Linked DNA regions of Homo sapiens. The protein of the gene in region 3 interacts with the protein of the main gene of each other region in a pairwise test. Each region holds a gene or a part of one and is shown on either strand. Other genes may lie near its edges. The genes, in order: PRPS1, NUP58 and SYCE3.

Region 1 (3,654 bases), on a different chromosome or scaffold from region 3:
GCTCACGCCTATAATCCCAGCACTTTGGGAGGCTGAGGTGGGCGGATCACCTGAGGTCAGGAGTTCAAGACCAGCCTAGTCAACATGGTGAAACCCGTTTCTACTAAAAATAAAAAAATTAGTCAGGGTGTGGTGGCTCACACCTGTAATCCCAGCACTTTAGGAGGCCAAGATGGGTGGATCACCTGAGGTCAGGAGTTTAAGACCAGCCTGGCCAACACAGTGAAAACCCATCTCTACTAAAGTATAAAAATCAGCCGTGCATGGTGGCACACGCCTGTAGTCCCAGCTACTCGGGAGGTTGAGGCAGGAGAATCACTTGAACCCGGGAGGCACAGGTTGCGGTGAGCCAAGATCACGCTACTGCGCTCCAGCCTGGGCAACAGAGTGAGACTCCGTCTCAAATAAAAATAAAAAAAAAAAATTAGCTGAGTGTGGTGGCAGGTACCTGTAGTCCCAGCTACTCAGGAGGCTGAGGCAGAAAAATTGCTTGAACCGGGAGGCAGAGATTACAGTGAGCAGAGATCGTGCCTCTGCACTCTAGCCTGGGTGACAGAGCAAGACTCCATATCAAAAAAATATATATATATATATATATATTTATATTACACTATTTCATATCTGCAGATTTGGTCTTGGGACCAATCCCCTGTGGATACTGAGGGATGACTTTACTATACTTCTATAGACAATAAGGTCTAAGAACAGCTTCCCTACTAGTATGCTGTGAATGGTTACAGCTACATGTGGATATTGATCACCTAGGCTTCAGGAGATCCTCTGAAGGAGCCTTATACCAGAAGCAGTTCACTGCCTCAGTTTACTCCAGTGCACTATACAAATATTACCATTTTCTATGGTAATATTTTCTAATATTACCATGTGACAGACACGAAAAAGATGCATGAAATGGTTGGCACATGTTAGTCTAAAGTACTTACAAATAACCGGACCATAATTTTAGCAGGTGGCCTGTATCTCATTTCATATAGGTACATGTGATGTACATAAAATTTGATGCATCACCTATTACTGTTACAGAGTCCATAAATAGCAAAAGAAGTAGAAATATCATAAGGAGTGAATCACTACTGTTCTATAATGACACTTTAACAAAAGACAGTACCACCTCTACCATACTGGCAATTTACCCAGTAAATATTAAATGTTCATATGCTCATCACTGTACTAGATGCTAGGGAAACAATGGTGAATAAAATGTGGTCCTTGCCCTCATTCTGTGTTAACTGTACTCTGGTCCAATTACTAAGTAACTCCATAGGAATTTACTCTAAGTATGAAGTAGGGCTATATTTTACCACGAAAGTTTCAGTGCCCATACTCGGGTCTCTACCAAGAAAAAAAAATCACCTCTCCTGTTCACCAGGTTTAAGAAAAAAAAAAGAAAATAATTTAAAAATTTTTAAAAATCACCTTAGTGATACCTCAAACAACATTATATTCCAACTAATCCTCTAGGTGAAGGAGAGGTGTATGTGTGTATATAGACAAGTAGATCAGAATGGCTGACAATACCTATTGAACAAGAGAAAACTTCAGTTCAAATCAAAAGGCAATAGAGTTATTAAATAAAAGATCCATACTTCTATCTCACTCTAAGCACTATCTTCTGTGTGGCTTCAGGAACTACCTACTGTCCTATTTCTGTCAAGATCACTTTTACCCACCCTTCTCTCCCCAAACAAAACTTCAAGGAGAACTCCAAAAGGGACTTATATGAAAACTGGCAGAGGCAATTCTATTGCCAGAAGAAGCTGACATAGGAGATAATTACTTATTTATTCCTTTCTAACCCAAGATGAAAGGGAGCTGGGAGTGGTGGCACACACCTGTAATCCCAGCTACTCAGGAGGCTGAAGCAGGAGGACTGCTTGAGCCCAGGAGTTCAAGTCTAGCCTGGACAACACAGGAAGACCCTCATCTCAAAAGCAAGAAAAGACAAATGGGGTTAGTTTATGTTGTAAAGCAAGAAAAATAAAAGCAAGTGAAAAAAAATCAAACTAGAAACCAATTAAAATCAAGGAAGCTGAGATTCCTGGCAGCCAGAACAAAAAAGAAAATGCACTAGTTTAGGATAAACCTTTTTTAAGACTGGACGCAGTGGCTCATGCCTGTAATCCCAGCACTTTGGGAGGCCAAGGCAGGCAGACTGCCTGAGCTCCCCATTTCAAGACCAACCTTGGCAACATGGCGAAACCCCGTCTCTACCAAAAAACACAAAAATTAGGCGTGGGGACATGCATCTGTAGTCCCAGCTACTCAGGGGGCTGAGGCAGGAGAATCGCTTGAACCTGGGAGGCGGAGGTTGCAGTATGGGGAGATGAAGCCGCTGCACTCCAGCCTGGGTGACAGAGCGGGACTCCGTCTCAAACCAAACAAAACAAAACAAACAGGCAGTGGTCATTTCAAGGGACTTTTGGGACGTTTTCAGTTTTTTTTTTTTTTTTTTTTTGAGACAGTCTCGCTCTGTCGCCAGGCTGGAGTGCAGTGGCACGATCTTGGCTCACTGCGACCTCCACCTCCCGGGTTCAAGTGATTCTCCTGCCTCAGCCTCCCGAGTAGCTGGAACTACAGCCGCACGCCACCACGCCCAGCTAATTTTTTGTATTTTTAGTAGAGATGGGGTTTCACCATGTTGGCCAGGATGGTCTCGATCTCTTGACCTCGTGATCTGCCCGCCTTGACCTCCCAAAGTGCTGGGATTACAGGTGTGAGCCACCATGTCTGGCCCAGATCTTTCTTTACTACTAGCTCTGCCCTTCGAGAGATTTCAAGCTAAAAGAGTCACTTTTAGGTTTTATGTTAAACAAGTCTGTGGTTGGGAGGCAGAGGCAGGAGGACCGCTTGAGCCCAAGAGTTTGAGACCAGCCTGGGTAACATAAAGAGACCTCCTCTCTACAAAACAATTTAAAAATTAGGCATGGTGGCAAGTGCCTGTGATTGCAGCTACTGGGGAGACTGAGGTGGGAGGATTGCTTCAGCCCAGGAGTTAGGAGCCATGATCATGCCACTGCACTCCAGCCTGGGTGACAGAGTGAGACACTGTCTCAAAAAAAAAAAAAATCAGAAAATTTTAATGCTGCTCACATTCATCCTCCATATATCAGCTCCTTGACCAAAATATGCATTTCCCTGGAGGAGAATGAAAGTCAGGCAGGCATATTGATTTCCAATCATGTATCAGAAGCCTATGGCTCTTGTTTCAGTCAAGAACACAGAGTATCATCTGTGCTCCAGACATTCACTTGCCAGAGTCAGGATGTTTGATTAAAAGTTGGAGAACAAATGAACAAATGTAGTTTGACAATTGATATCAGACAGTATAAGGGACAAGCTATTCTGCTATGTTTTTAAAACTTTATCATTATCGCTGGGCACGGTGGCTCACGCCTGTAATCCCAGCACTTTGGGAGGCCGAGGCGGGCGGATCACGAGGTCAGGTGATCGAGACCATCCTGGCTAACACGGTGAAACCCCGTCTCTACTAAAAAATACAAAAAAATTAGCCAGGTGTGGTGGCGGGCGCCTGTAGTCCCAGCTACTCGGGAGGCTGAGGCAGGGGAATGGCGTGAACCTGGGAGGCAGAGCTTGCAGTGAACCGAGATCAAGTCATTGCACTCCAGCCTGGGAGAC
Region 2 (3,654 bases), on a different chromosome or scaffold from region 3:
ATAAAAAACCTTGCCAGTTATGTAGGTGAAAAATGCCACTTCATAATAATTCTTAGTTTATATTTGGTGAAGAAAACCATTTTCTTCAAATGCTCATGAGACAAGTATATTTCTTCTTTCATGAACTGCTTACTTGTGATTTGCACACTTTTCTTACGGTATTTTTCTTATATATTTCTAAGAGCTATTTCAACATTAAGTATATTATTTGTCTCATTTACATAATTTAATATGTATTTCTAATATTAGACTCTTGTAAGATGTATCTCAATTTCAGAGATGTTAAAATGTGAAAAAATAAGCACCTAAAAATCAAGCATTTTGGGCAGACTGCTTGAACCCAGGAATTGGAGACCAGCCTGGGCAACAGGGCAAAACCCTGTGGCTACAAATTTTTTTTTTATTTCTGAGACGGAGTCTCACTCTAGTGCCCAGGCTGGAGTGCAGTGGCGTGATCTCAGCTCACTGCAACCTCTGCTGCCCAGGTTCAAGCAATTCTCCTGCCTCAGCTTCCCGAGTAGCTGGGATTACAGGTGCCTGCCACTGTGCCCGGCTAGCTTTTGCATTTTTAGTAGAGACGGGGTTTTACCATCTTGGCCAGGCTGGTCTTGATCTCCTGACCTCATGACCCACCTGCCCCGGCCTCCCAAAGTGCTGGGATTACAGGCGTGAGCCACTGCGCCTGGCCAAAAAATTTTTTAAAAATTAGCTAGGCGTGGTGCTGCGTACTTGTGGTCCCAGCTACTTAGGAGGTTAACGTAGGACAATCACTTGAGCCAGGGAGGTGGAGGTTGCAGTGAGGTAAGATCACACCACTGCATTCCAACCTGCATGACACAGCAAGTCACTGTATCCCAAAAAAAAAAAAAAAAAAAAATCAAGCATTTTACTTTCCTCATTTACCTTTTACCTCTGCACATGGGGTTTTACTTTTTTACCTCTTTCATCCAACTGTAATTTATGTTTCCATGTTTTGTATTTTATTAAGATTTTTTTCTTTCATATTTAGTATCTCTAAAATTGCCACCTATCTTCTATAGACGTCCTAGATTTTATGAGACATGGAAATAAAAATAAGGATTTCATTTTATGTTTCTCCAAATAATTCACCAACTTTTAAATTGACTAGCATATTATTTCTTTGATATGACATTTTATTATATTTTGTAAATACTTACATACACACAAACATGTATATAAAAAAAACTTGAGCCTGTTTCTACCATGGATCCCTGATTACCATGGACCCCCAATTAATCTACCTAGCTTTGCCTCAGTAATACACGTGGAGCTCTACAAAAGCTTCCTAACAGTTCTCCATGACAATTCTTGCCTTCCTGAATGCTATTTTCCATATGGCTGTCAGAATGCTCTTAATCTTAAAATACAAATCTCATCAAATCCCTTTAATAGACCCAAATTGCCTGAGGTATTAATATAATGACAAAACTCAACATGGCAAATAAGGACTCCATGACTTCTGGAACCTCATCTTTCTGCTCTATGGCTAATCTGGCCTTCTATCATTTCCTCAAAAGGGTCAAGGTCCTTCTCATCTCTAGTCTCACTTGACGCTGTCCCCTCTTCACTGAATGCTGTTTATTGCTACTCTCTATCTGGTTAAATCCCACACTGGTACTGCAGGGCCCAAGCTAACTGATACAGCTACTAGAAACACAGAAATCATTTGGATTAAAAAAAAAGAATCCCTTGATATAAGCAATAGATAAAAGGGAACTGGGATGTAGTAATCAGAGATCCATAGTAGAAACACACCCAAGTTATTTATATACATGTTTGTGTGTACATAAATATTTATAAAATTTAATGTCATATCTAAGACATTTATTTCATTTATTGTATATATTCTCCTTGCTCAACTCTATCTTAGGTACACTATGAAAGCAGGAAGATGTGGGGAGGGGCAGAGGAGGGGAGATTAATTTCTTACATTTATCTTACTCTTCTGCCTTAGCCTGCTCTTTGAGCCTAAAAACAATTATAATAGAGAAGTACTCTCATGCTTAAAATAAAAGTAATAGAAGTGGTACCAAGCTATTCCACTTGAGTAAACAAATAAGCTGCTAAGGCTGCTTTCCTAATTATGGAGTTGCTACAGAGAAAACTAAGTAAAAACAAACTTTGTTTAGAAATTTGTCAATTTTCACTGAAAGAGAAATCTAAACTTTGTAAAAGTTTAAAAAGGTTTTACCAACTTTAAAATAGTAATTCACCCTAGAATAGTATCTCCTTATAATAAAACCTGTGTCCAGTTTTTTAAAAAAAAAGTCATATAGATACACAGATACTATTTCACAGCTTCATCCATTTATCTTTCTTCAGAGAAGTTCAATATGTATATATATACCCTAGTATATATGGTATATATTCTAGTGAAACATGCTTTCATCAGAAGCAGAAGAGATGGTGCAAAACAAAGTAACACAAAAAACAATGAAAACATTTTCAAAATGAATTTGGATTAGCAAATTTTTAAAACCAAGATTCAACGTGGCAAGGGCACAGCAAGAAAGGTATTTTCATACTGGTTAGGGGGTAAACTGGTAAAATCTTTCTGGGAAAGCGATTTCACAAACTATACACTAAGAGTCTCCAAAATATCCCTCTCTTTAAGCCAATGATCCAATTTCCAGGTATTTTCCCTAAGAAATAACCAAAAATATAAACAAGCATTGATAATAAAAGGAGACACCTACATGTCTGGCTCTGCTAGGGTTTTACAAATAGTAACCCTCAAACCATTTAACAGATAAGGAAAAACCAAAGCACATAATATAAGTAACTTCAATAAGGTCAGAGAGCTTATAAGCAGTTGAGCCAGGATCTGAACCCGGGCAATTCCACTCCAGAGCAGACACTCTTAAACTACTATATTATGTTGCCTTTTTAGATAAATGCCCAGTGTTTTACTTCCCAAAGTAAAACATCTGGAAATAAACATCTAACAAGAGAACAATGGTTGACTAACTTATCCATCCATAAAACTGATATTAAGCAGCATTAAAATATTTAAAAAGAGTTACTGACAGACAAATGCTTCTGATGTTAGATAAGAACAGACTACAAAACAATACTGCATATGTATCATGATCCCTATTAAAAAATACATATTCGTATACACATTAAGATAGCTAACTGTTACTACTAAATATATAACTGCTAATCTTCCACACAAAGGAATTTTGAGCAACCTAGACATTCCCTCAACAGAACTGTTAAAACATAAAGTTACAACAGCATTACTTACTCTTTTTATCTGAGGAGCTACTGAAATCTATACCACCAAGGCCTTCATTGCCTGCAGTTGAAGTAGCTGCTGTAGTTCCCAAAGTCAACCCTAAAGCATTCTGTCCAAGTCCTATAAATAAAACATAACTTATAAATTCCATCAAAAGACTACAACAATTTCCCCTTACTGATCAAAGGACTCTAATGCTTTTAAAGTTGGATCCTAGATTTTCTTCATATTTGATTTAGGCAAACAACAAGAAACAAGCCTGGAGATGTTTTGGCCAAAGACTGATAACCTTTCTTGAATTCGATGGCATATGCAGTTTGGATGATGCGATTTTTCATTATTACGAGGGCCAGAACATATATCAATTCAGTATGTAGGCACTCAATCTTCACTTG
Region 3 (3,654 bases):
TACCTGAGATTTTCTCCATCTCTTCTAATAGCTTTTCCAAGTCCTTATTCAGATCTGACAGCATTTTCAGCATGTTGTCATAGTTTCTTTCCTCAGGGTCAGCATCATCCATCTAGGCAATGCACAGAAAGAAGCTGCAGTCAGACAGACCTACATTTCAAATCCAGCTCCACTGGTTATAACTCAGTGATTTCTCTAAGGAATTCTTTCCCCATCTCTCAGATTCAGACAATACCACGTACTCCACAGGGCTGTTGTGAAGGTTAAATGGGAACATGTCTAAAGGCCCCAGCATAGCATTCGGCACATATAAGTTGTCCTTCCCCTTTCTTCCATCTTTGCCATACAAACGTAGCTGAAGGCTGGAGTCATTAACACAGAAAACATCTTCATTATAATGAAAAAAGTCTGTCATAATGGTGACATGGAATTTTTTCTTGCAAAACCATATTGAGTACCCACTAAGATGCAAGCTATTGTGCTGATGTGTTTCAAAGATACAATTCCTGTACCTAAGGAATTTCTAGTGCAATATGGGAGTAAGTCACACACACCATATGACAAACCAGGATGTGACAGATGTCGAAGCAGTTAATGTAATAATTACAGACATCAAGCGATGGGAGCCTGGAGGCGGGTACGTTTAATTTTAAAATATGAAATGATTCATACATTAAAAAAAATTATAATCAACTTAACTTTCCAGAAGAATTCTCCTGGGCATTAGAGGCAGTGCCCCATAGAGACTGTCCTGGTTCTGGAATTGAGCTGCCTGGGTTCAAATCTTGGCGCTACCTCATATCAGCAGTGTTACTTTTGGCAACTTACACATCTTCTCGACAAATTTTTGGTAATTTTTTTGAGTTTTTTTTTTTTTTTTGAGACGAAGTTTTGCTCTTGTTGCCCAGGCTGGAGCACAGTGGCACGATCTCGGCTCACCACAACCTCTGCTTCCTGGGTTCAAGTGATTCTCCTGCCTCAGCCTCCTGAGTAGCTGGGATTACAGGCAAGTGCCACCACGCCCGGCTAATTTTGTATTTTTAGTAGAGATGGGGTTTCTCCATGTTGGCCAGGCTGGTCTCAAACTCCTGACCTCAGGTGATCTATCCACCTCGGCCTCCCAAAGTGCTGAGATTACAGATGTGAGCCACCACACCCAGCCAAGTTTTGTATTTTTTAAACGGGAATTATTAGTATTACCTATATCTTGTGGAGTTTTGTGAGGATTAATTGAAATAAATTATATACTGTTCAGCACAGTACCTACCGTAATGAGCACTTAATAAATCATATCCGTTGTTATTTAAAATGTTGAACAGTAATTACATCACTCCAGATCCTCTCCTCACCTTTATTAATATACATTAATTCATTCTGTTAATATTTGATGCTCACCTATTTATCTACAAGGCACTAGTAAGAAAAGAGAGAAATAGATAAATAATGTAAGAGCTGCCAGGGAACTTGTAACCTCATGAAGGTGAAGGAATGAGCCAGGTAAGCATAAAACAGGGAGGGATGGGCCACAGATGCTGCGGTATTGTTCCCACTGTACATGTGGGGAAAGCCTTCCTGGTCTTTACTTCAGAGTTAAGGGCCTCCACTCAGTTCTCCTGTGACTTCCTGGGCCTCCCTCATCACGGTGCCTCTTAGCTGGTATTGTGATTGTGGATTCCTCTACCTCCCCAACTAGACTGTGGGGTCCTGGAAAGCAGAGGCCATCTTTCCAATGAACTATTCCTAGTGTTCAGCTCAGAGCTAGGAAAACAGCAAGTGCTTAATAAATGTTGGCTGAATAAAGGAGTTGACCATTGTAAAGCTCTAATTCTGAAAGAAAATCATGATCGTGGCCAAGCGCGGAGGCTCATGCCTGTAATCCCAACACTTTGGGAGGCCGAGGTGGGTGGATCACCTGAGGTCAGGAGTTTGGGACCAGCCTGGCCAACATGGTGAAACCCAGTCTCTACTAAAAATATAAAAATTAGCCGGGTGTGGCGGCAGGTGCCTAATCCCAGCTACTGGGATTACTGGGGAGGCTGAGGCAGGAGAATCGCTTGAACCCGGGAGGTGGAGGTTGCAGTGAGCCGAGATTGTGCCATTGCACTCCAGTCTGGGTGACAAGAGCGAAACTTCATCTCAAAAAAAAAAAAGAAAGAAAATTATTATCTTTCCCCTCTTGCCGTCCTCCCTGTTAAGGGTAGAGATTCTGAGGGAGGAGCAAAGGGCCCTCCAGGAGGCCTGACAGGCAGATCTGAGAATGAGGGTGCAGGGTCAGGGTGTATGGTCTTTCGGGATCTGTAAAGGAGGTACTTCTGTGGGCATGGAGCCATTCCACGTGCAGGGACTCCGTCCTGCTTTTTGGTAAGTAGGAATAGTTTGCTAAGAGTAAGTGGGGAGGTACAGGCAGGTGGCAGGGCAGGGGGCTAATAGTGGGTGATGGGAGGAAGAAATGTCCAGAACACCTTCCTTAACCCTCTCCTATAGCTATTCCCTCTCCTTCCTTTAGCAGCCAGGCCTCACACGTTTGTCTGTCCTCCTCACTCCACTGTCATCTGGCATCTGTCTCTGACATTCACTGACAATGCTCTCACCAAAGTCATAACTGGCACACCCAGGGCACTTTCTGTCTTTCTTTTATTTAACATCTCTGCAGCACTGACATTTGGCCATTTTCTCCTGCTCAAAATTCTCTTCTCTTGATGTTTTAACCTTGTTCTCTCCAAACTCTGTCCACCTGTGGTAGTTCCTTCCCTGCTCTTTCTTGGCTCTCTCCTTTACTGGCTCTAATGGGTCAAGGAAGGTCCTTTTAGCCCCTTCTCTTCTCACTACACACTCTTTTTTTTTTTTTCTTGAGACGGAGTCTCACTCTGTTGCCCAGGCTGGAGTGCAGTGGCGTCATATCGGCTCACCACAACCTCCGCCTCCCAGGTTCAAGCAATTCTCCTGCCTCAGCCTTCCAAGTAGCTGGGATTACAGGTGCCCGCCACCATGCCCAGATAATTTTTGTATTTTTAGTAGAGACGGGGTTTCGCCATATTGGCCAGGCTGGTCTCAAACTCCTGAACCTCAGGTGATCCGCCTGCTTCGGCCTCCCAAGTCCTGGGATTACAGGTGTGAGCCACTATGCCTGGCCAGAACTTCGATTTTTATTCTGAATGAGATGAGGAAACACTGGAAAAATCTGACAAAGGTGATGTGATTTGAATAATGACTTAAAAGGATCACTCTGGCTTCTGTGTTGAGAATAGACTAAGGGGTGGAAAGCATGGAACAGGGACATCATTTAGGAGGCAGCTGCAAAACTCCAGGTAAGGAATGATGAGGCTTGGACCAGAGTGTTAGAAGTGGAGGTAGCCGCCAGGCTTAGTCGGTCATGCCTGTAATCCCAGCACTTTGGAAGGCAGAGGCGGGGGATCACAAGGTCAGGAGTTCGAGACCCGCCTGGCCAATATGGCAAAACCCCATCTCTACTAAAAATACAAAAATTAGCTGGGCATGGTGACGGGCGCCTGTAGTCCCAGCTACTCAGGAGGCTGAGGCAGAAGAATCCCTTGAACCCAGAAGGTGGAGGTTGCAGTGAGCCGAGATCATGCCACTGCACTCCAGCCTGGGTGACAGAGCAACACTCTGTTCCAAAAAAACAAAAACAAAAAT

The links.
Region 1: the proteins of SYCE3 (region 3) and PRPS1 interact in binary tests that used the Homo sapiens proteins (3 or more experiments, as listed by UniProt).
Region 2: the proteins of SYCE3 (region 3) and NUP58 interact in binary tests that used the Homo sapiens proteins (3 or more experiments, as listed by UniProt).

What each region holds. Positions count from the first base shown.
Region 1 is NC_000023.11:107,634,876-107,638,529, reverse strand, and holds part of PRPS1 (ribose-phosphate pyrophosphokinase 1), read right to left. Parts: intron 1-3,654. UniProt on the Homo sapiens protein: Catalyzes the synthesis of phosphoribosylpyrophosphate (PRPP) that is essential for nucleotide synthesis.
Region 2 is NC_000013.11:25,315,082-25,318,735, reverse strand, and holds part of NUP58 (nucleoporin p58/p45), read right to left. Parts: intron 3,380-3,654; coding exon 3,269-3,379; intron 1-3,268. UniProt on the Homo sapiens protein: Component of the nuclear pore complex, a complex required for the trafficking across the nuclear membrane.
Region 3 is NC_000022.11:50,556,294-50,559,947, forward strand, and holds part of SYCE3 (synaptonemal complex central element protein 3), read right to left. Parts: intron 113-3,654; coding exon 4-112; intron 1-3. UniProt on the Homo sapiens protein: Major component of the transverse central element of synaptonemal complexes (SCS), formed between homologous chromosomes during meiotic prophase.